Homo sapiens: one gene and its partner. The protein of the gene in region 1 purifies or fractionates together with the protein of each later gene. This does not show direct contact. Each region holds a gene or a part of one and is shown in the gene's direction. Other genes may lie near its edges. The genes, in order: MPG and CAPZA1.

Region 1 (12,250 bases):
CGGCCGCCCCGGGGGGGCCTCGCCGCGACCCCTCCCCGGCCCCGGCCCCGGCCCCGACACGGCCCCGGCCGCTCTGAGCAGCTCCGGCCCCGGGTGCTGAGGACTCGCCCCGCCCTCCGGACGCAGCCCCGGAACCCGCCCGCCCCCGGAGCCCTGCGCTCCCGGCCGCGCTCACTCACTGCCGCCGCCGGGGGCTCTGGGGGGTCCTGAGGGCGCCGGGGAGGAGGCTGCCGCCGCTGGCCGGGAGGGCCCGCGCCGAGTCCCCGCCCGCCCGCCGGTCCGGCCCGCCCGGGAATGCCCTGGAGCGAGGGGCGTGCGCCCGGGGGCGGGCCCGGCCGGAGCGGGGCGGTCGCGCTGACTCAGAGCTCAGGAATGCGCGCCGCCCGCCTGCCCGGCCCAAGTCACCTCCTCCCGGAAGGCCGCCGGGCTCCCTTCTCCCCAGGGTCCGCCTGCGGGGACACCTGGGGCTGGGGTCTCCAGCGCCTCGGCCCGACGGAGGACCTGGTGGGAGCGGACCGCAGTGTCAGCGCTGGGCGGCTCCGCCTCTCCCTGGCTCCAGATTGAGGCTTGAGCTGTCCTGCCCTGATTTGTGCTGAGAAGAGGGTGAGGAGGGAGAGCAGGCACGGGGTAAAGGGCGGAGGATGGGTGTGTATCCCTGGCTCCCCTAAACCCGACCTCCTCCAGAGGCCCACGCTGACAAGTCCTGTATCCCACACTCACCCAATCCCACTAAGCACTCACATTCCCTCACACACATTCATGTGCACCGATCACTCACAATCATACACACACGTCCCCACATCCTTCCACTTCATGCGTTCATTCGCCTGCACATGCACGTGCTCACATGCACCCACCTACTCATGTACATCTTTCATGGGTACATACACGTGCACACACACACGTGTACACACCGATGCACACACTCAGTTCAGGACCACAGTCATTACCCCTCCCCCTGCCCTGTGCCCCTACCCCCAGAAGCCCCGCTCCACCAGCAGGCACTCAGGCCAGGCTGCACCGGCCCCACCCGAAGCCACTCAGCAGAGGCAGCGCAGTGTCTGGTGTCCACTCTGGGCTCTTCTCACTGTCTCAGAGCTCAGCGGCCACCCCGGGGTGGGCTCATATCCCTGCACAATCTGGGCTGGACTCAAAATGGCACTCTGCTTTCCGCTGGGGCTGCTGGTGAGAGTTTCCCAGCATTTCTCTCCTGACACTGGGTGGGCTGACCCTCCCAGGGTGGGGGACAGGGGTGCCAACAGCAGAGTACGGGCAGGGCTGTCCAGGAGCTCTGAGTGGTGGGTGGCCAAGGCTTCCTCTGGATAGAGGGTGCAGGGATCCCTTCGTCCCATGGGTCCCTAAGGACCCCTCTACAGGGTGCCCCCCCATGCCTCGGACAAATGTGTCTTCAGGCCCTGTGCTGGTCACAAGGTGCTGCTGCTTCAGTGCCATCCTCTGGGTCTGGGTGGCACCAGCCCTCTCCAAACTGAGCTGTTGCACTTGAGGGCCCGACGCAGACAATGGCCTGCTCCTTGGCTAGACAGAAAAGGGGAGAATTTGAACTAAAGGTGCTGGTACACTTACCGGTAGATCCCAGAGCCTGGGCAAGATTCCCCTGCCCATATCCTTGTCCATGCCACGGGATAGGGCGGTGCCTGCACATAATGGGTGCTCTCTGAACACAAGCAATATCAACACAATTCTCATGTAGAAGGAGACAATGGAAGCTTTGGAGGGGGTGGAGGGTAACTCCACCAGGGGATGACTGCCAGTGCATCACGGACACCGGGTGAGAGGGAGCCTGCCCCAGTGCCAACACTCAGTGCTCCGATAGCCTGCACGTGCCACCCCTCCCATGCCAGGCTCACAGCCAGAGACAGGACAGTCTCCATGCTTAGCATTATTGACCTGCCAGGGATAAGCAAGCCCTATCGGGCCTGGATGCCCAGACTAGGCTGGCAGGGCCAGAAGTGGTGTCCTCTCTGGAAAGCTGGGGACTGGGCTTGCCTCCAAAGCATGCCACAGCTGGGCATCTGGTGTCAGCAGGTCTCCTCCTGCAGTGGACTCTGTCAGACCCCACCTAGACCCGCTCCAAGACCCAGACACTCATCGCCAGCTGCCAGGAGCACCAGTCACAGCTGGCTCAGAGCTGAAACCCCCCGCACCCAGGAGTCACCTTCAGTGGGGAGCATGCCCCAGTCTGCCTCTGCAGGCAAATCCCCAGCTCAGAGCCTGTGTCCAGGAATCCCCAGGCTCTCAGCCCACCCTGGCCTCCTGAGTGAGGTCATCAGAAGGATGATCAGAGGGGGGTCGATACACGTGTGCTCAGTGTCAGGCCTCTGAGCCCAAGCCTGCACGTATACATCCAGATGAAGCAAGTGAAGAATCACAAAAGAAGTGAAAATGGCCGGTTCCTGCCTTAACTGATGACATTACCTTGTGAAATTCCTTCTCCTGGCTCAGAAGCTCCCCCACTGAGGCACCTTGTGACCCCCACTCCTCCCCGCCACAGAACAACCCCCTTTGACTGTAATTTTCCACTGCCCGCCCAAACCCTATAAAACGGTCCCACCCCATCTCCCTTCCCTGACTCTCTTTTCTTCGGACTCAGCCCGCCTGCACCCAGGTGAAATAAACAGCCTTGTTGCTCACACAAAGCCTGCTTGGTGGTCTCTTCACACGGACGCGCACGAAACTCAGGATTGTACCCAGTCCACATAGACAAGTGTGTGCACATATGTGTGCTCTGCCTCCTGCCTGCCCTACTACTCTCTGTCCTGGTGGAGGAGCCCCCTATACGGAAACCCAGCTCCCGGCCCCTCTCTTCCCGCGTCATGCACCCTGGAGAAATGGAAATCAGCTGCAGTTGCCCAGCACTCCCGGGGCTGGTGGGCAGGCGTCTGAGAATGGGTTAGGGTTAGGGTCTAGACCAAACCCAGGGTTTGTGGCCCTCACACCAGGACACGAGGGAATGGGAGCCCTGACCAGTAAGAGGAGTGTTCCCAACAGCTACCCCAGAATCCTCTGCTACCCCAGAATCCTCAGCTCAGCTTCTAGGCCACAAGTAATCACCCAAGGGGTCAGACCCTGGGCTTTGGGGAGTCCCTGGAAGGATCAGAAGAAACCGCCCGGGGAGCAGGGCTCCAGGGATGGGCCCATGACCAGCTCCTGGCTATTTGGGGAAGAGGCAGAAGGGGGCCAGGCCAGCCAGTGGCCTGAAGTCATAGGCTATTTCTGAGGCAGCTGCCCCCTCCCCATATCCCAGGGTTTGGCAAGGGGTTCCCATAAGCACCTGGGCCCAGGGCCTGGCAGCACAGCCCCAGGCAGGGAGGATGTAGCTCACACACACCCAACCTCGGCCTGCCCAGTGGCTGCCTTCTCTGCCCAAGGAAGCTTTGGCCCTCCAGGGCTCATCAGACACAGATGGCCGCAGAGACCAGTCAAGAGGCCAGCAGCCACCCTGCTGGGAAGCTGCCAGCTCAAAGCTGTGTAGAGGAGTCCATGGGCTCTGACCTGACACCCACCTCAACAGCTGTCAGCACCCCCCTCCATCAGAGAGAAGACGGAGCCAGTGTGCTGGGCACCCTGGGGTCATAAGGCTGATACTAGAACCCTGGCCCCTGTAGCCAATACAGCCACATCTCTCAAAGACTTGTTTATAAAGGCTCCAGCGACTGATGGCCACACCTCCTACAGCTGGAGGCAGCTCCAGCCCCTCCACAGCCTGTGGCCTATTGTGGAGGTCGGGGGTCAGGGCTGCTCACCCCAGCACCAATACTAGCCTTCACTCCTTTCAAAGCCTCAAGGGTGTTCTCATCTCCATCTTCCACTGATATCCTTGCCTCCTCCAACAAGCCTGTTCCAGCCCAGCAGTGGGACAAACTGGGGACAGAGGAAGCCCCAGGCCCCCTCCTCTCACCTGGCACCACTTTCTCTTGTCCTGGACCAGCCCGCCAGCCCACTCTGCAGGCCACAGTTGGAACTCTCATCCCACCGCTTCCAGCCTGTGGTGGGAGCATGAGACCACAAACCAGGAAGTGGGGGGGGGGAGTGCCCAGAGATTGCGCAACCCCCAGCACTCAGTCCAGAACATCTGGAGAAGTTGGTTGCTGGCGCCCCGGTGCCGGCCTCTCCACCTCCTGGGGCAGGGGCCAATCTGCTCTCCAAGTGATTCTCTTTCCTCATAAGAAAGGTGGGGATAAAAACACCCCTCTGGGAGCCTCTGGACTCCCCGTGAGTTCTGCAAGGACCATGTATCACTTGTAACATCAGAATAAATATAAGTACAAAGTAACACCCATCCTCTCCCTGCCCATCAAGAGGACAAAGGCTCAACTGGGGCCTCAGTTTCCCTACTAGACTGAGGGGGAGCACTCGGGGGGATGGGGGGCTGTTCCCACAGGAAGGAGAGACTCATTGTTTGGGAGGCATGGCTGCAGATAAGCAGGGAGGGTGTGGAATCACATCCAGGGCTGCTTTATAAACACGGATTGATGACACATTATGCCCCCACCCCGGGAAGCGGCACACAGTGCTACAAACAGCTGGTGGCTTCCAGCCGGCTGATGGCCCCTCCCTCCCCAGGAAGTCCTGGCTGGGGCCCATGGGGGTGGGACGGCTGGTCAGAGGAGGAGAGGCAGTTGGAGACCAGGTCCTGCCCTGTTAGCCTTTCTGTAGGACCAGGTGTCACACTCATCTGAGGGCTCCAGACACATGGCCTGTGCGTCTGTCCTGCCCAGCGTCTCCCACCTGACGCGGCCAGGTGCCCAGTTGCTCTTCAAGGCCTTTTCAGGTGCTCCTTTCCAGGACCAGGGTCACAGAAGTCAAAGCTCAGGAAAAGCCCCTCGAGGGTTTTTGTGCGGCAGAGGTGGGTTGTGGGGTGGGATTGTGCCTGCCACAGTGGAGGGGCCCTGCAGACCCAGATAAACCTTCAAGTGGCCAGAAGCGGGGGATGGCTCTGCTGGGTGCTGGGGCTGCCATGGGCCGTGGGAGCCAGCAGTGTGCCCAGCTCCCTCAGGGCCCGTCCCCTAGGCCCTTCCGTCCACTGGGCCAAGCACCGTCCCTGCCCCTCCCTAGGGGCATGGATCTGACTTGAGAGGTTGTGAGAGCTTACAGGCGCTGGGCCGTCGGGGAGGCCTCAGAAGCGTAGGACGGCTGCGCACTGCCGGGCCGTGTTCAGCCCTGGTCTGGCCTCGGCCTCTAGAGGAGGCTGCCTGCGCTCCAGCAGGCCCAACCCAGAACGTGGGCGAGCTCCCTTCAGCATCCCTGGGCGGAAAGAGGGATGGGGGCTCTGCTGCAGAGGCAGAATCCGCGCCGCTCCCTCCTTCCTTCCCCCGACCAGCCTGTGACAACCCCGGCCAGGGGCGGGGGCCTCCGCACAAGCCTGGCGTCCACTTCCTGGATAAGGACTCCCCGGCCCACTCCGGACCAGGGCTGGGGCGGCCTCCCAGGCGCTCACTCCGCTGGCACCCCACCGGAAAACACGTCTGCGGCCCGCCCCCTCCCCCAAAGCACGACCACTCCGCCCGGGCCCCTCGAGGATCCACTCAGGTTCACGACGGGCCCGTCCTCTCGGTGGTCTGACCACCGGCTGGTGGAGTGGGCTCTGGGGCCGCCAGGCGACCAGGGCGCAGGCGGGGGCGGACAGCTCATTGGGAGGGGCGCCGGGGCACAGTGCGGGGCTCGCCCCACCCCCAGGTGCCCCTTCCCCGCTCTCGCCTCGCAGGCACCGCATCGGGCCCGGGAATCGGTCCGGACCTGGCGGTGGGCGCTGGGAAGAGGATCCACCTCCACGTGGCCCGCCCCGCCCCGGGGGCGCAGCCAGTTCCCGGCGCTCACTGCCCCCCTTCTCCCGGCTTCCGTCCCCTTCTGCGCAGGCGCCGCTCCGCCCCGGTCCTAGGGGTGCTTCCGTGGTCGGCGGCTGCTGGGCTCCGCGCCGGGGTCCGAGTCCCACGAAGCCCCGGCCCGAGCCGCCGGATGCCCGCGCGCAGCGGGGCCCAGGTGAGCGCGCGCCTCGGCCGCCCCGCGGAACAGACGCGCCCACCCCCAGGCGCAGCAGCGAGCGCGGCCGCGGGAGCGGGAGTGCCGGGGACGGGCGTAGCGCCCACCGCCCCGAGGGTTCGGGGCAGAGCCAGAGCATAGGCCAAGGGCCAAGCTCGGGCCGAGAGCAGTGGCCGCAGCGCCCGGGGGCTGAACCCACGGCGCGCTGGCAGCGCGGGCCGAGCTGCGGAGACGGTCACGTCAGCGTCCGTTCCAGGCCGACTGGCAGTCTCCGTTCTACATTAACGTCAGCACTCCCGTTAAAAATAATGCATCTCTCCCATGCCAGGAGGACTTAGGTGCTGCTAAAGACCAGCCCTCCGGGTGCTGCCAGGCCGGCGCTCACCCGCCACCTTCATCTTCCCTTCTCCTTTGCCCCAGGACAGCCGAGGATGTGTGGTTAGGTTCCCCCTACCCATGGGGAGGCCAGAGGTGGGAGGCTGGCGGCCTGCTCGGTCTCAGCAGACCCTCCTAGTCCCTCAGGAGACCTTGCCTTTGCCCCACTTGCTCGTTATCCAGCCTGGGCCATGAAGCAGAGGACAGTTAGGGACCCTGAGCACGCGGTGGTCACCCCGGTGCTCACCCCTCCCTGTGTGTCCGACCTTGGCCCTGCTAAGATCCTGTGTTTTGAATTCTGGCAAGGGTTGGATGAAAGGGCAGGGCTCCAGAAACCAGCTCAGACGTTTGCTTGGGACCTGCATGATGAGTGGGAATCGGAGGGCACCAGCCCTGCTGTCCCAGGCTCAGGCCCCCATCTGCTCCCCAGGTCATGCAGCCTGGGCCCCCATGCCGTGCAGCTCGCACATATGTGGGGCAGAGCAGCCACCCTGCCCCCAGCAGCAGCCGTCCATCGTCAGACGTGATCATTTCCTGAGGCCTCGAGTGTGTCAGGGTGTTTGTGCCTCATAACAACCCACAGGATGGTCACCCCCGCTTTGCAGATGAAGAAACCAAAGCAGGTGGTCAGATCCAGTCCTTGCACTTCCTGAGCCTGACCTTACCACACAGCTGTCTCCTATTCGGATGCTTATTTATTTTTTTTCCCATTACAGTTTTGCCGACGGATGGGGCAAAAGAAGCAGCGACCAGCTAGAGCAGGGCAGCCACACAGCTCGTCCGACGCAGCCCAGGCACCTGCAGAGCAGCCACACAGCTCGTCCGATGCAGCCCAGGCACCTTGCCCCAGGGAGCGCTGCTTGGGACCGCCCACCACTCCGGGCCCATACCGCAGCATCTATTTCTCAAGCCCAAAGGGCCACCTTACCCGACTGGGGTTGGAGTTCTTCGACCAGCCGGCAGTCCCCCTGGCCCGGGCATTTCTGGGACAGGTAATGTGAACATAGCAGCGAGGGCCCTCCTGAAGTGCCTGTCACTGCAGTTGTCCCTGAACCCCTGTCCGCTGCCTGCTGGATTGGCCCTCAGTTAGTCCTCCTTGTCCTCATGCATTTAGCGGCTTTGCTCACACTGGTCCCTGCTTAGCTTCATCTCAGTTGCCTGAGGTCATCTGGGAAGAATGTAGAGATTGTCAGTGCTGCTTGCCCAGGGTGGAGCAGGGGTGCCACTGTCTGCCCCCGGCTCTGGGCATCTAGGGCAGGAGCACTTGCACCGTTAGCCTTCCTCACCGGCAATCCACCTCAGTTTTTCCACACGTGGGAACTGTGGCTGTGGCCAGTGTCGGGCTGCCCCTTCCCGCTGTAGTGGCTCACAGTGCAGTGCTGGCTTCCCAGGGCCCCTGCAGCTTAATGTAGGTCAAGGATCTGGGCTCTGCCAATCAGACTTGGAGTAAGAAGCAGGGACTGCCCAGGTCCCATCCTGGTGGGGCCTACGGTGCAGCCTGTCCCCACGAGCAGATGCTCACACAGCCGTGGCATCTTGGCTGGATCTGTTGGGAGCGAGGTGGTGGCGGTGGTCCTCGATGCCAAAGCCCCAGGCCTGCCTTTCTGGTTCTCCAGAGGCTCCAAGGCCTTCCCTTTGTCCTTTAATGAGCCTACTTTTAGGTTATAATCACCAAGAAGAACCAGAAGAGAAATACCAGTGCCAGGAGTTGGGTGCTAAAGGAGCAGACCCTAGAATGTGGGCTCGACCTCATGGAGAACAGAGAACATTCTGTCCCCATGCGGATCCTTCTAAAAGCACCTTAAGTAATGGGCATTTGTGGCCAGGTGTGGTGGCTCATGCCGGTAATCCCAGCACTTTGGGAGGCGGAGGTGGGTGGATCACGAGGTCAGGAGTTTGAGACCAGCCTGACCAACATGGTGAAACCCCATCTCTACTAAAAATACAAAAATTAGCTGGGTGTGATGACGGGCGCCTCTAATCTCAGCTACTTGGGAGGCTGAGGCAGGAGAATCACTTGAACCCGGGAGGCAGAGGTTGCAGAGAGCTGAGATCACGCCATTGCACTCCGGCCTGGGCGACAGGGCGAGACTCCGTCTCAAAAATAAAAAAAAAATACAATGGGCATTTGTGATACAACAAAACAGCACGTGTGGCAGGTGCGTCGTAGGAACAGGGCAAGGGCGCAGCATGGCATCAGGGACCACAATACGTTTGTCTCTATTCAGCATCCTTGTCAGGCCACAGTCATGCCCACTTGAGCCCATTGGTGGACAAGATGATGTCCAGCAGAGAAGAGGGTGTCTCACCCTGTGTCCCTTGGATCAGGGACAGCCCTCTGCCCTCTCCATAACCTCCTAGTGGATGCCCTTGCAGACCCCTCAGCCAGGCTTGGGTCATGCACTCATCCCTAAAAGGGTCACTGCAGTGAGTTGCCATGAAATCCCAGGCCACTCTCTGGGCTGAGGAGGGTGTGGTCTCCCCCAGGAGGCTCTGCCAACAAGGAAGAGGGGTGTGTGTTGGCCATGGGGGTGGGGAGGGGTGAGAGGCCCCAGTATCTGCCACTGGTGGAAATGGTATCAGTGAAATCCTGATCAGAAATTTGGGATGGAAAAGGAAACAATGAGAAAAGGGCTGTGGGAACCTCCTCTCCAGAGTGGTAGTTGGGCCCCCCCAGTGTGCCCCCATGGAGGCACAGGAGTGTGCAGAGTGAAGCCCCTGGAGGGGCATTCCCTCTAAGCTCCAGGGAAGATGGAACAGGGCCACCCTTTCTCCCCTGGACATGGCCTGGCCAAGCCTGGCCTGTTCACTTCTGTCCTCATGGCTCTGGATGCCTAAGGATTTCTGGGCTTCCCGCCCAGGCACTGACCCCTTCTTCCCACCACCCTATCTCCAGGAAGGCCTCCTGAATGCTCCCCACACTGACCCCTTCTTCCCACCACCCTATCTCCGGGAAGGCCTCCTGAATGCTCCCCACACTGACCCCTTCTTCCCACCACCCTATCTCCGGGAAGGCCTCCTGAATGCTCCCCACACTGACCCCTTCTTCCCACCACCCTACCTCCGGGAAGCCCTCCTGAATGCTCCCGGCGCTGACCCCTTCTTCCCACCACCCTATCTCCGGGAAGGCCTCCTGAATGCTCCCGGCGCTGACCCCTTCTTCCCACCACCCTACCTCCGGGAAGGCCTCCTGAATGCTCCCCGCGCTGACCCCTTCTTCCCACCACCCTACCTCCAGGAAGCCCTCCTGAATGCTCCCCGCGCTGACCCCTTCTTCCCACCACCCTATCTCCGGGAAGCCCTCCTGAATGCTCCCCACGCTGGCCCCTTCTTCCCACCACCCTACCTCCGGGAAGGCCTCCTGAATGCTCCCCACGCTGGCCCCTTCTTCCCACCACCCTACCTCCGGGAAGCCCTCCTGAATGCTCCCCACGCTGGCCCCTTCTTCCCACCACCCTATCTCCGGGAAGCCCTCCTGAATGCTCCCCGCGCTGACCCCTTCTTCCCACCACCCTATCTCCGGGAAGCCCTCCTGAATGCTCCCCCGGCGAGCATCTAAGCTCCAGTGCCCCTCCTCCCCAGCCCGTGATACTGACCATGGCCTTTGGCACCACAGGGCTTCGTGGGCTGAGGTGAAGGTAGCCTGGCTGTCCAGCTGACCTATCTGGCCTAAAAACGAGAGGTGCAGGGGATGTGGTTGGTCCCCAGTGCTCTGCTGTTAACTCTGGGGCTCCGAGCAGTGACACAACTGTTGGCCGTTACCAGGACCATGGTCCAGGCTGGGGCACCGTGGGGCAGCTGGGCCTACTGCTCAGAAAGCCGGAGGGTGGGAGCTGAGTATGAGGGTCCCTTGTGGCCACCTCAGCAGCCCAGGTTTAGGGGACTTCACGGGCTCTGGGATTGCCCAGGTAGCTGGTGTGGGGACATCCTTGGGGTCCTGTGCCTTCCGTGATGCCTGGCCTCGTGCTAAATGCTGATGGTTTTCTCAAGGGCACTTGGGAAAGGAGGAATCTGGGGAATGGAGGGTCCTGCTGAGAGGACTTGACCTGCAAGGTGAATCCATGACTGCCGGTTCCCAGCCCAGCCTGGCTGTGGCCTGAGGTATCTTCGGCCTGCGGTCTGGTTGTCTAGCAGGGCTGGAGGAGACAACTGGTGCCCTCAATAGCCACATTCAGCCTCAGCAGGAGCAAGAGAAGAGGCAGGATGGAGACGGGGCAAGGTCCCTGGCTAGACCTGGGCGGCTGACACACCCTGAGCTGGGGAGATGAGGTCCAGGCTGGGCACTGTTAGGGTGAGTGGACCCCCATCCCTTCCCGCCCTGAGCAGAAACTGACTGCCCACAGGTCCTAGTCCGGCGACTTCCTAATGGCACAGAACTCCGAGGCCGCATCGTGGAGACCGAGGCATACCTGGGGCCAGAGGATGAAGCCGCCCACTCAAGGGGTGGCCGGCAGACCCCCCGCAACCGAGGCATGTTCATGAAGCCGGGGACCCTGTACGTGTACATCATTTACGGCATGTACTTCTGCATGAACATCTCCAGCCAGGGTGAGCAGTGCTGGGGCACGGGGGGTTGGAGGGCCGGCAGAGCCCTGTCCGCTAGCAGCCAGGGGACCACTAGGAGGACTGAGGTGGGGCCAGCATTTGAGCGAGGAGGTGCCACTTCCAGGCCAGGCCAGGGTTTCGGGAGCTCTGGCTACGCTGACGGGGCAGGGCTGGTTAGGTTAAAGGGGTAGAAAGGGCCGGGTGGGGCCGGGCGCGGTGGCTCACGCCTGTCATCCCAGCACTTCGGGAGGCCGAGGCGGGCGGATCACCTGAGGTCAGGAGTTCGACACCAGCCTGGCCAACACGGTGAAACTCTGTCTCTACCAAAAATACAAAAATTAGCTGGGTGTGGTAGTGGGCTCCTGTAATCCCAGCTACTAGGGAGGCGGAGGCAGGAGAATCGCTTGAACCCGGGAGGCGGAGGTTGCAGGGAGCCAAGATCGCGCCATTGCACTCCAGCCTGGGTGACAGAGCGAGACTCCATCTCAAAAAAAAAAAAAAAGGAAAGGAAAAGAAAGGGTTGGTTGGAGTGGAGGCAGAAAGAAGGCCGAGGACACAGTGTCGCCTGCCCTTGACGGAGGCAGCACATGAGGATGAGAAGCTGATTGGAGAAGAGGATGACTGCAGTGCTAAGAGCAGCGTGGTCAGGTTGCCAAGGATGGAGCAGTGGGCACAGCAGGGGGACTTAGGGTCGGCGGAGGAGTCGGTGAGGAAAGGGAGGTTTGGCAGGAAGTGATCAAAGGGGTCATGTTTTTGTCAGGATGTGGGACTTGGATGTGTTCTGTGTGAAGGAGCCAGGGCACGGGGCTGTGGTGATGAGGGCGGCCAGGCTTTGACTCATTTGCAGGCGGCTCTGTGGGGGCTCAGTGAGACAACGAGGGGCGTGTGCCCTGCACCCACAGGGATGTAGAGGGTCCTGCTCCTCCCTACTGAGGTGGGTCAGGGTGGGCAGCAGGCACCCCACCTGGTGAGCTGGAAGCAGCGTGGGAATCACAGAATGGACGGGAACTTAAAGGCTTTGCTTGGCCTGGATTTTATCTTGAAATACTTTTGACAGCTGGCTGGTTGAGGGTATCTGCTCACAGGAACGCCGCATTTGCTGGCTTTGTCCACTAGTGCTCGCCCCTGGCTGCTGATGCGGAGCCTCACGTGGCCGCAGCCCAAGAGTAGGGACTGGCTTGGCCACCTCCAGGCTAAGCTTCGGACTCCCAGGTGGCTGGGAGGGCCAGGGGTGCACAGGTGCATCAGAGCAGGTGCTGCCTTGCTGGAGGGCCAGGGCTCTTCTGGCCAGGGTCCAGGTCATCATTGTCCCCAGCCAGGAATCCAAGGG
Region 2 (12,112 bases), on another chromosome or scaffold:
TTCCTGAGTAGCTGGGATTACGGGTGCCCACCACCACACCTGGCTAATTTTTATATTTTTAGTAGAGACAGAGCTTCACCATGTTGGCCAGGCTGGTCTCGAACTCCTAACATCAGGTGATCCAGCTGCCTCGGACTCCCAAAGTGCTGGGATTACAGGCGTGAGCTGCTGCACCTGGCCTAATTTTCTTTTACTCCCTCTTGACTGTAAAAATAGATAAATTTGGCTTTATTATTTTTCCTTTATAAAATTATGGCATATTAAGAAAAATATTGATTAGAATATTTTTTATTTTTAAATTGACAAAAATATGATATGTACAACATGATATTTTGAAATATGTATACATTGTGGAATGGCTATATTGAGCTAATAACATGGATTTCTATACATATTTATCATTTTTTTGTTGTGGGAAAATCAGCAATTTTCACTAGAATATTTTAAATATACAATGATGATGAATTACATGGCAGTCTAGAATACAGTTAAGAGCACCTACTTTGAAGCCTTACTAACTGGTTTGATTCCTGGCCCTGCCAATTAATTAGTTGTGTGACCTTAGGTAAATTACTTAACATCTCTGTGCCTCAATTCTTTGACTGTAAAATGGAAATAATTGTTTTTATCTCATAGAGTTGTTGTGAAGATTTAATGAATTAGTAATATATGTAATATATGCCTGGAACAGTGCCTGGCACAAAGTAAGCTCTACATAAATGTTAGATGAATGTTAGGCTAGGTGTCATTATGTTTGATTTTTTTTTTTTTTTTTTTTTTTTTTAATGAGAATACCCATTATGGTGGACTGGACAAGTATAGAATTCCTGTTGGGAAGCCAGTATTGCAAAGGGGAGACATGATAGACTCCCATTTAGAAATTGACTGTTTAATCCTAAATATACTTTGAATTTATTGTTTGTTACCTGTTCAAAGTTTGTCACTACCCATTCTTAATTTGGAGAGCTCCAGCACCAAATAACCCTACTGTGTCCTTAGCTATCAAATGACCTACAGAAAGTCATGGAATTGTTGTGATGGTGTCTGCTGTATATAAGTATCCTATGTCTTATGTCTTCAGCTGACCTGCTTAGTAGTCCGTAATTTCATCTCCTTATTCCCTATCACATTTTCTACATAGTATGTTCCAAACATTTTTCATTGTCCTCTGACAGGCATCTAATCCCCCATGTTTTGTAAGGATTGAAACTGACAGAAATTTTTTTTTTTTTTTTTTGAGACAGAGTCTCACTCTGTCTTCCAAGCTGGAGTGCAATGGTGTGGTCTCGGCTCACTGCAACCTCCCCTTCCTGGGTTCAAGCGATTCTCCTGCCTCAGCCTCCTGAGTAGCTGGAATTACAGGCGCCTGCCACCACACCTGGCTAATTTTTGTATTTTTAGTAGAGACGGGGTTTCACTGTGTTGGCCAGGCTGGTCTTGAACTCCTGACCTTGTAATCCGTTCGCCTCAGCTTCCCAAGTAGCTAGGACCACAGGTGCACACCACCATACCTATCTAATTTTTCTCTGTGTGTGTTGTGTGTGTGTAGGGACTACAAGGCATGAGCCACCAGGCCCGGCCTATTTCTCCTTCTTTGTCTGCCCTTTCCACCTTGCCCTTTCTCCCTCTTCTCCACTTTTTCCCTTCTCTCATCTCTCTCTGCATCACCACCACGTCAGTACATATTCTTTGCCTGCTAATGCCATTTCCTCTATCTACTTCTGAACCCTTTAATTTTTTACTTTAGTCTCCATTCTACAGAAACTGCTCTGAGTTTACTAATGGTTCCTGAGTTACCTGGTCCAGTGTCCTTTTCCTTGTCCATGACTTCCGAATGGCATTTCACACTGAAGCCAATCAACCACTTCTAGAAATTATCTTTTACTTAGGCTGCTGTCAGCAACCCCTAATTCTTTTTTTTTTTTAGAGATGGAGTTTTGCTCTTTTTGCCCAGGCTGGCGTACAGTGGCATGATCTCAGCTCACTGCAACCTCCGCCTCTCAGGTTCAAGCGATTTTCCTGCCTCAGCCTCTCTAGTAGTTGGGATTACAGGTGCCCACCACCACACCTGGCTAATTTTTGTATTTTTAGTAGAGATGGGGTTTCACCATGTTGGCCGGGCTGGTCTTGAACTCCTGACCTCAGGTAATCCCCCTGCCACAGCCTCTCAAAGTGCTGGGGTTACAGGCTTGAGCCATTGCACCCAGCCCCCTAATTATTCTTACTCTATACTAAGTTCTTTTTTTCCCCTACCTTTGTAAATGTAGGCATTCCCCCAAAGTTCATAATTCATTTAATGCAGGTAAAGTAACACAGACTTCGGTGTCACAAAAACAGTGGGTTTGGATTCTACCTTTACCACTTCCTGAGTGACCTTAGGCAAGAAGCTTTGTGAACTTCAACTTCTTATCTGTAGATAACACTGTATTTCATCAGATTTATTAGAGGAAAAAGAAAATACATGTAAGAACATATTTTGTGGACTATAAAGCGCTATTTTTTTTTTCTTACTTTCCCTTGGTGATTGCATTTCCATTCACCTCTCCCACACTAAAGAAGAGTTAGTGTTTCTAACTACTAACTAGACATCTCCATCTGTAATTTCCAGTTTGTTAATGACACCACCATCTTTTTAGTCACTCTTGAGTTCCTTCTTTCCTTTGCCCATCATTTGCAATATACTGCTAGACTTTGATTGTACTTCTACATTCTGTGTGCAACTCTTCCTTTCCATTCCCATTAATATAACTCTGACTTGTTGCCTAGATTAATCCTGTGGCCTCCTAACCAAGCTTCAGCTTTTCTTCGTTTTATCTTGAATACCAGTATTGATTATTCTCCCACAATATTAGTTCTAGTCATGTTTTGCTGTCTCTCCATTGCCTATAGAATAAAATCTTAAACTTCTTACTTTACATCTACTATTACATGACCTAAATCTACCATCCTGTTTTGTCTTTCATTAGTCCACTTCACACACACCCTTTAAACCTGACAGTCTTGTTCACTGAACAAGTCCTTAGTTTCCTGTCTTGCCTTTATTTTCAGTCTCTGCTTATCAGAATCTCATCTGTCTTGTATGACCCAGCCTAAATGGCACCCGCCTTGTACCCCAAACCAAGAGCAGTATTTCCCTCTGTTTTCATTGTATCACTGTCTCTGGTAGAACCTAACATGTTCTGCTTTGTTTTCATATCCCATGTGCACTATTGTGTTCTAAGCTCATTTTATGTGATTCTTTGTCTCCCCCAAGGATTTAACACTCTGCTTTTGTACAATGCATGTTGTTTAAATTAAAAGTGTTTGGAGTCTTTAACTATTTTTTTTTCCCAACAATAGGTTTATGCTAAAACTATCGATGGGCAACAGACTATTATTGCATGTATTGAAAGCCACCAGTTTCAGCCTAAAAACTTCTGGTAAGAAGTAGATATTCTCTTCTATTTACATCTGAAAGAAACCAGCAGTTGAGACTTGGTTTTTAATCCAACTAGCTTGGAATAATTATTTAACTTACAGACTTCAGTTTTCCATCTATAAATGAGGGATTTAGATTCCTTACAGTTCTAAGGTTTTATAATTATATTTTCCTTTAAAAGTTACTCTTATTTTGAGTGAGAACAAGTGATTAGTAAAGTGCCCTGTTGAAAATCTGAGTTTTACTTGGCTTAGGGTTACTGCTACTTGAGTTAATTGTGTAACTCAGCAGCCTATTCATCTGATTTTGGAAGAGCCTCCCATGAGCAGAATAGGCATGGTTTTCCATTTCAAGGGAAAAAAGGAAAAATGAAAGACAAAATAACTTAGAAAAGGCTTATGGTCAGGCCACTTAGATCCAGACTTACATTTGAGTAGACAGAGCTTTGGGTTTGCCAAACTGGAAATGACAGTTTCTCTCTCTCTCTTTTTTTTTTTCTTTTTTTGCACCCCTCTTTCCCAACTTCTGTACCTCAGTGGCAAATCACCTCTTTCTTGTGCTTATTGCTAATTCTGCAATGTTGTGTGTGTGTTTTAATAGGAATGGTCGTTGGAGATCAGAGTGGAAGTTCACCATCACACCACCTACAGCCCAGGTGGTTGGCGTGCTTAAGATTCAGGTGAGATTCCAACATGTTTATAGACTTAAAACTTCACATCTTTAAAACATGTGCAGGTTGCTTTGGTATTAAATAAGGACCAAGTATGTGTAGATGCAAAGGGAGACTGATGGCAGTGAATAGAAATAGAAGCCTCCTTCTTGGGGTGGTAAACAGAGAGAGCTATTCTGAGTTGATAAAGGATAGCATGTAGAGTGTATGGCAACATGGTTATTGTTATTTTTCCTTCAATGGTAACATAAGATATAACTAGGAATTATCAAACAGCAGTTTTAGGAAAGATTTAAAATTAATAATAATAATAATTATTATTTTTTGGGACAGAGTTTCACTCCATCACCCAGACTGGAGTGCAGTGACGTGATCTCAGCTAACTGCAACCTCCACCTCCCAGCCCAGGCTGGGTTAATTCCTAAAAATTATAACTAGAGAGAATGGCAGGTGTTTTGGAATATAAATAGCCAAGCAGAAGTAGATTGATTGATTGATTGATTGATTGACTGATTGATTGATTTTTGAGATGGAGTTTTGCTCTTATTGCCCAGGCTGGAGGTGCAATGGCATGATCTCGGCTCTTCGCAATCTCTGGCTCCTGGGTTCAGGTGATTCTCCTGCCTCGGCCTCCCGAGTAGCTGGGATTACAGGCATGCGCCATCACGCCTAGCTAATTTTCTATTTTTAGTACAGGCGGGGTTTCTCCATGTTGGTTAGGCTGGTCTCGATCTCCTGACCTCAGGTGATCCACCCGCCTCGGCCTCCCAAAATGCTGGGATTACAGGCGTGAGCCACTGCACCTGGCCCAGAAGTAGATTTTTAATGCTGATGTCAGGGTAGACAGGCAGCTGAATAAGATAGCTGTTAACTCATTTGATGCCTGTCTGGATTGAAGTTTAATATCCTAGCAGAGGTTTGACTTTCTAAACTCAGGGTGATTTAATATTTAAGCCTCACTAACTGTAAGGTCAGAATAGGTACAGGTAACCGAGAAGATCAGTACCTAATCGTACCTGTATTATATTATGTGAAGCTGTGCTTTAACAACAATTACCAAGAGTTGTCTTTTTTTTTTTTTTTTTTTTTTTTTGAGAAGGAGGAGAAGGAGGAGTCTCGCTCTGTCGCCCAGCCTGGAGTGCAGTGGTGCAATCTTGGCTCACTGCAACCTCTGCCTCCTGAGTTCAAGCAATTCTCTTGCCTCAGCCTCCCAAGTAGCTGGGATTACAGGCACACACCACCACGCCCAGCTAATTTTTGTATTTTTAGTAGAGGTGGGATTTCACTATGTTGGCCAGGCTGGTCTTGAACTCCTGACCTCAGGTGAGCCACTGTGCCCAGCCAAGAGTTGTCTTTTTTAATGCTCTAATTTAATCAAGTGCATAGGTAATAAATTCTGTAAAAGTAAATCTGCTCTTTTTATATATACCTATAGCTTCCTGCAACAAGTAGCTCCTGGCCATAGGAGCATGCCCAACTCAGGTGAGACAGGCTGGTGTTGAGTTCACAGCTCTAGGAGGAGCCCTCAGTGATATGTAAGAGTTGGTAGATAAATATGGCAGCTTCCTCAAGTAGGACAACTTTCAAGCACATTCTGTTTAGTCTTCCGGAGCCCAATACCCACAGCTGTAACCTGCTCATAAACGTACCTCTAAGGCTTCCTTCCCTTCTGTGTCCCACTTCTTCTGTCCCCTACTGTAGCTTTGTGAGATTCGCTCCTGAATAAACTACTTTTTCTCTAATCTTTGTCTTGGGGTCTCCTTCTGGGAAGGTGCAACCTAAGACAGCATACTGTTCTGTTTCTGTTAACAAAATATCTTAGTAGCCTAGCGCTCTAGATCTCTTGTAACTGTGGCATTAGCATTAACTTCCTAGAACCATGGTATCAGCATTGTAGAAGCTTATTGTAAATTTTGTGTAAATAAATTTTACTTTGTTTCTAGATGGAAACAGCCATTTGTATTTTAGCTCTGCCAGTGCAAACCTATAAAATAAGAGCACACATCACAAAGGGTGATAATTTATGGTAAGATTCAAAATACAGCCCAGTGTACAGACCCACATTTAAACCTTTTTAAGCACAGATTGAGCACACTTTTGGGGAAAGCTTATTTCATTTACATATCTTTTAAATTTTGGAGTGAGAATTATTTGGAAAAGTCGTTAAGATATTTAGCCTTTCAGGCTAGTCTATAGGCAAAAACATCGTTCTGAGAAGGCAACAATTTCTGAGGATTTATGTTGATGACAATCATGTTGAAATTTGTGTTAGTTAATTGAACCATTTTCATATTAGCAGATGAGACCTAGAAAAGGTCTTAGAACACATAAGTTTTGAGCTTAATTTCTTTCTTGAAACGGTGTATCTCAACTCTGTCACCTAGGCTGGAGTGCAGTGGTGCTTTCATAGCTCACTGCAACCTCAAACTCCTCAACTAAATGATCCTCCCACCTCATCCTCCCAAGCACCTAGTGCTACAAGCACATACCACTGTACCTGGCCAACTTTTTTTATTTTTTTGTAGAGTCGGGGTCTCACTATATTGCCCAGGCTGGGTTAATTTCTAAAAATTATAATAACATTAGTGTATTAGGTAATGAAATTAATATTTTTTAGAATTTTTCTTTTTTTTTTTTTTTTTTTTTGAGACAGAGTCTCGCTCTGTTGCCCAGGATGGAGTGCAGTGGCAGGATCTCGGCTCACTGCAAGCTCCACCTCCCGGGTTCATGCCATTCTCCTGCCTCAGCCTCCTGAGTAGCTGGTACCACAGGCGCCCGCCACCATACCTGGCTAATTTTTTGTATTTTTAGTAGAGACAGGGTTTCACTGTGTTAGCCAGGCTGGTCTCGAACTCCTGACCTTGTGATCCGCCTCCCTCAGCTTCCCAAAATGCTGGGATTACAGGCGTGAGCCACTGCGCCTGGCCCTAGAATTTTTCATTGAGATCAAAAACAGTGAGGCTTATTGACCTTACCCTATATTCCTTTCCATGTCCTAATTAAAAAACATAACAGAAGTTCAAACTAATTGTATAGTCTTTATTCTCGAACAAAAAGAATGTGCTCTGCATACCTCCTCTCTTTAGACAAGTTCTGAGAAATACAGAAGTTCTTGTTTCTTCTATGGCCAGATCTGTTGTTGTTTTTTTAAATATCTCCCATCCTGTTTGTAATAATTCCCCCCTGCCCCCTTTTTGTTTTGTTTTGTTTTTTGAGATGGAGTCTTGCTCTGTCGCCAGGCTGGAGTGCAGTGACACGACCTTGGCTCATTGCAACGTCCGCCTCCTGGGTTCAAGCGATTCTCCTGCCTCAGTCTCCCAAGTAGCTGGGCGTACAGGCGCATGCCACCACGCCCAGCTAATTTTTTGTATTTTTAGCAGACACCGGGTTTCACTGTGTTAGCCAGGATGATCTTGATCTCCTGACCTCGTGATGCGCCTACCTTGGCCTCCCAAAGTGCTGGGATTACAGGCGTGAGCCACTGCACCCGGCTCATTCCCCTTTTGAATGTTCTTTTCAGTCCCTGAACCTCTAGTTTTTTTAATGAAAAAACAAACAAAACTGATATTTGATTGTGACCTACTTGTATTTTAAATATTCTTATCTATTGGGATTTTAACCTTTATATGTCATCATCATTTAGCCCAGTCTTTTTTGCCCACATCTTTGCTGTTCTGATTTTACATGTAAGTATTAGTGGTTCTTATTATCACCCTTCTTTTCCATTGGATTCTCATCTTGTCTCCAGTGGATTCCAGTCTCTCTCTGTCACCCAGGCTGGAGTGCAGTGGTGCAATCTCAGTTCACTGCAGCCTCTGCCTCCTGGCTTCAAGTGATTCTCCTGTCTCAGCCTCCCAAGTAGCTGGGATTACAGGCACCTGCCACCATGCCTGCCTAATTTTTTTTGTATTTTTAGTAGAGACAGGGTTTCACCATGTTGGTCAGGCTGGTCTCGAACTCCTGACCTCAAGTGATCTGCCCACCTCGGCCTCCCAAAGTGCTGGGATTAAATGTGTGAGCCACCATGCCTGTTCTCAGTAGATTCTTATATTGTCTTTTCTTCTTTAACCTCTTAGAAAGCCAAAAGGTAAAATTTCAGGGTTTAGAGAGGGTATGGAAAGTCTAGCTTCTCATGCCCATCTGGATAGAGCCAGCTGTTTGTCCTCATTCAAGAAGATACTTGCCGGGCACGGTGGCTCACGCCTGTAATCCCAGCACTTTGGGAAGCCAAAGCAGGGGGATCATGAGGTCAAGAGATCGAGACCAGCCTGGGCAACACAGTGAAACCCCATCTCTGTTAAAAATACAAAAATTAGCTGGCCATGGTGGCACGCACCTGTAGTCCCAGCTACGTGGGAGGCTGAGGCAGGAGAATTGCTTGAACCCAGGAGGCAGAGGTTGCAGTGAGCCGACATCAGCCACTGTGCTCCAGCTTGGGCGACAGAGCGTGACACTGTCTCAAAAAAAAAAAAAAAAAAAGATACTTATTTTTGTCCTTTAAACAAGGATAGGTAGGGGGTTCTTGTTATCCAGGAAAGTCTTTTTGTTGCAAATAGCTTTCTGCCTAGATGAAGCTTGACTGTTAGTTATGCCCTTCTAATGATATCCACAAAGAGTAAGCCCCTGCTGAGACACTATTTCTCCCCAGATCAAGGAATTTCTAACTTTTTGACAAAACATAGCATTGGGAGGTATTACATATGTTGGATAGCTCTGGAATTTGACCTAATTCAAATCCTAGCTCCTCCTCTTACTAGGTGTGTGAACATGGATAAGTTATTGTTTAATAACTGCCTCAAGGCAAACTTCAGTTTCCTCAGCTGTAAAATAGGGTTAGTCGTAGTCCTCATCTCATAAGAGTTTTTGTAAAGATTAAATGTGGTGGCCTAGCGCAGTGGCTCATGACTGTAATCCCAGTACTTTTGGGAGACCGAGGTGGGTGGATCACAAGGTCAGGAGTTCGAGACCAGCCTGGCCAACATGGTGAAACCTCGTCTCTACTAAAAATACAAAAGTTAGCCGGGCGTGGTTGCGGGTGCCTGTAATCCCAGCTACTTGGGAGTCTGAGGCAGGAGAATCACTTAAAGCGGGGAATCGGAGGTTGCAGTGAGCCGAGATCGTGCCATTGCACTCCAGCCTGGGCGACAAGAACAAGACTCTGTCTCAAAAAAAAGGATTAAATGAGGGAATATAAGTAATAGTGAAGTGTTTGCACAGTGTCTAACACATAGTAAAGGCTTAATAAATAATAGCTCCTACAGCTAAGATTACTGAGTAAGTGAGATGAAGTAAGTGAAGATTACTGTTCTTCTCTTTTCCTTTTCTGCTTTATCCCTCAAAACATTCTGTTTTGTTCACATATCTCCTGGTAGCATAGACTAGATGTCTTTGTTTGGGGTTTTTTTGTGTTTTTTTTTTTTTTTTGAGACAGAGTCTTACTCTGTCACCCAGGCTGGAATGCAGTGGCATGATCTTGGCTCACTGCAACCTCCGCCTCCTGGGTTCAAGCAATTCTCCTGCCTCAGCCTCCCAAGTAGCTGGGATTACAGATGCCTGCCACTACACCTGGCTAATTTTTTTTGTATTTTTAGTAGAGATGGGGTTTCGCCGTGTTGGCCAGGCTGGTTTCGAACTCCTGACCTCAAGTGATCCGCCCGCCTTGGCCTCCCAAAGTGCTAGGATTACAGGCATAAACCACCGCGCCCGGCCTTGTTTCAGCTATTATAACACAATACCTTAGACTGGTATACCTTAGCAGAAATACCTTAGCAGAAATTTATTCCTCATACTTCTGGAGACTAAGAAGTCCAAGATCAAGGTGCTGTTAGATTCAGTGACTGGTGAGTTCTGTTTCTCATAGGTGACACCTTCTGCATTCTCACGTGACAGAAGGGGTGAACACTGTCCTCATGAGGTAGAAGAGTGGCAAGAGAGCTTGATTGAGCCTCTTTTAGAACGGCACTAATCCCTTGAAGGCTTCATCCTCATGACCTAATCACCTCCCAAAGGCCCCTCCTCTTAATATTATCCCATTGCATATTGGTCCAACATAAGAATTTTGGGAAGGTACCAACATTAAAATCATAGCACTAGATAAATGGCATTACCTGGACTATTGTTCTGGCATTATGTCTCCAATAGCAGCTCCTTCGTTTTATTTTCTTCATAGCACAAGTATAATCTTTCTAAAACATTCCTTTTCCCGTGTGTCACCTATAATAGGATAACATCTGCATTCTTTTTTTTCCCTAAGATGGGGATCTTGCTATATTGCCCAGGCTGGTCTTAAACTTCTGGCCTCAAGTGATCCTCCCGTCTTAGCCTCCTGAGTAGTCTGAATTCTTAACATGGTTTATAAGGTGCTTTGTTCTTCACAGTCTGTGTTTCCACTTCATAGCAATGTCTCCTGCCACACTCCTTTTTTACACATATTCATATGCAGTGAGTTCTTTGTTCTTCTCCAAATTAAACCAGTTATACTCCATTCTGTTATACTTTTTTATCTCCTTGGTGTAGATGTCATTCTCTACCTGTCTACTTAGGTGACAACTACTGTTTTCAAGATCCTATTCAAATGCACAAAAGGATACCCTCATCCTATTGTGTATGACCAATTAGTAGCCTTGTCAAGGTGACTAAACCTATCTTAAGTTGCCAAAACTTAACCTAAAATGTCATTGACTTGTTAGTCTCTTCTCCTTTTTGCTAATTGTTTGCATAATTGTAGCACTTCACTTTACCTTACATATTCAGAACTACTTTTATCTTACTTTTTAAAAATATCTGATTTACCAATAAAATATTTGTTTTTCTGTCCTGTCTTTAACCCTCAATGTGACTTTTCCTGTACCTGGTCAGTTCTGCTTACCAACATTGATGATAATGTATATGGAGAAATGTGCCAAATATTAGGTATGAGGATCCATTAAAATTCCTTGGTTTTCACAGAGAAAAACTAATGTTTAATAACTTTAATTATTTTAATATTGTTAAGAGTGGGATCTCATTTACCTTTGTATTCACAATGCCTAGCACAGTGCTTAGAATGTGAAAAGCATGTAATAAATGTTTCTTGAACTTAATAATCAGTTTTCCTTGCTAAGGAAAAAGCGTTCTTAAACTTAAGTGTTCTGTGGATTAATTAACCACCATTGTGAATTACCACTGCTTATATTAATTATTTGTTCAGAGTTGGTAAAATGGCTCATCAACTTAAAGATAGCTTAAAGCATGGATTTGTGTCCTAAATAACAGGTTTCTCTATGAACTTCCCCTAAAAAGGCTCAAACATTGTCTCACACAGGTTCACTATTATGAAGATGGCAATGTTCAGTTGGTTAGTCATAAAGATGTACAGGATTCACTAACTGTTTCGGTGAGTATGGAATATTTAGTGTCTGTCTTACTCATGTCTCGTTTTTCTTTAAAAAATTAGTTTTGATCCTGAGTGCTGATTCTGCCAGTAGAAATTCAGTTTGCTTTTAATGTTTTGATTTTGGCCACTTCTGTTAGTGCCTCTTATCACCAACCAGCATATATTAGTTCACAGTTTTTGACTCACAATATTGATTATGACTTTAGACAAATGTCCTTCTTAGTCGCTCTCTCAATTGTAATAGTTACTCAAGGACAGCAATACCTTCATTCAATAAATACCAAGAGCAAGGAAAGTTTACCAAACTGCATCCTATAGGGCTGCATTTATATCATTAGAGAAACAACATTTTTAGGAGTATTCAATTAGAATGTTTTGTGGTTTGGTGGTGGTGGTCTATTTGAGACAGGAATTCACTCTGTTGCCTAGGCTGGAGTGCAAGGAAGGACATGATCACAGCTCACTGCAGCCTTGAGCTCCCAGGCTCAAGCGATCCTCCCACCTCAGCCTCCCAAGTAGCTGGGACCACAGGTGCATGCCACCATGCCCAGCTAATTTTTTTATTTTTGGTAGAGATGAGGTTTCTATGTTGCTGAGGCTGGTCTCAAACTCCTAGACTGAAGTGATCCCCCTGCCTCAGCCTCCCAAA

The links.
Region 2: the proteins of MPG (region 1) and CAPZA1 purify together in Homo sapiens (affinity purification with mass spectrometry; 2 studies listed by BioGRID and IntAct, with this or other methods). This does not show direct contact.

The regions. Positions count from the first base shown.
Region 1 is NC_000016.10:72,334-84,583, forward strand, and holds the start of MPG (DNA-3-methyladenine glycosylase), read left to right. Parts: upstream 1-5,891; 5' UTR 5,892-5,976; coding exon 5,977-6,000; intron 6,001-6,805; exon of another isoform or gene 6,806-6,959; coding exon of another isoform or gene 6,960-6,998; intron 6,999-7,091; coding exon 7,092-7,367; intron 7,368-10,718; coding exon 10,719-10,923; intron 10,924-12,250. UniProt on the Homo sapiens protein: Hydrolysis of the deoxyribose N-glycosidic bond to excise 3-methyladenine, and 7-methylguanine from the damaged DNA polymer formed by alkylation lesions.
Region 2 is NC_000001.11:112,655,683-112,667,794, forward strand, and holds part of CAPZA1 (F-actin-capping protein subunit alpha-1), read left to right. Parts: intron 1-3,339; coding exon 3,340-3,419; intron 3,420-4,018; coding exon 4,019-4,097; intron 4,098-5,523; coding exon of another isoform or gene 5,524-5,553; exon of another isoform or gene 5,554-5,570; intron 5,571-11,391; coding exon 11,392-11,463; intron 11,464-12,112. UniProt on the Homo sapiens protein: F-actin-capping proteins bind in a Ca(2+)-independent manner to the fast growing ends of actin filaments (barbed end) thereby blocking the exchange of subunits at these ends.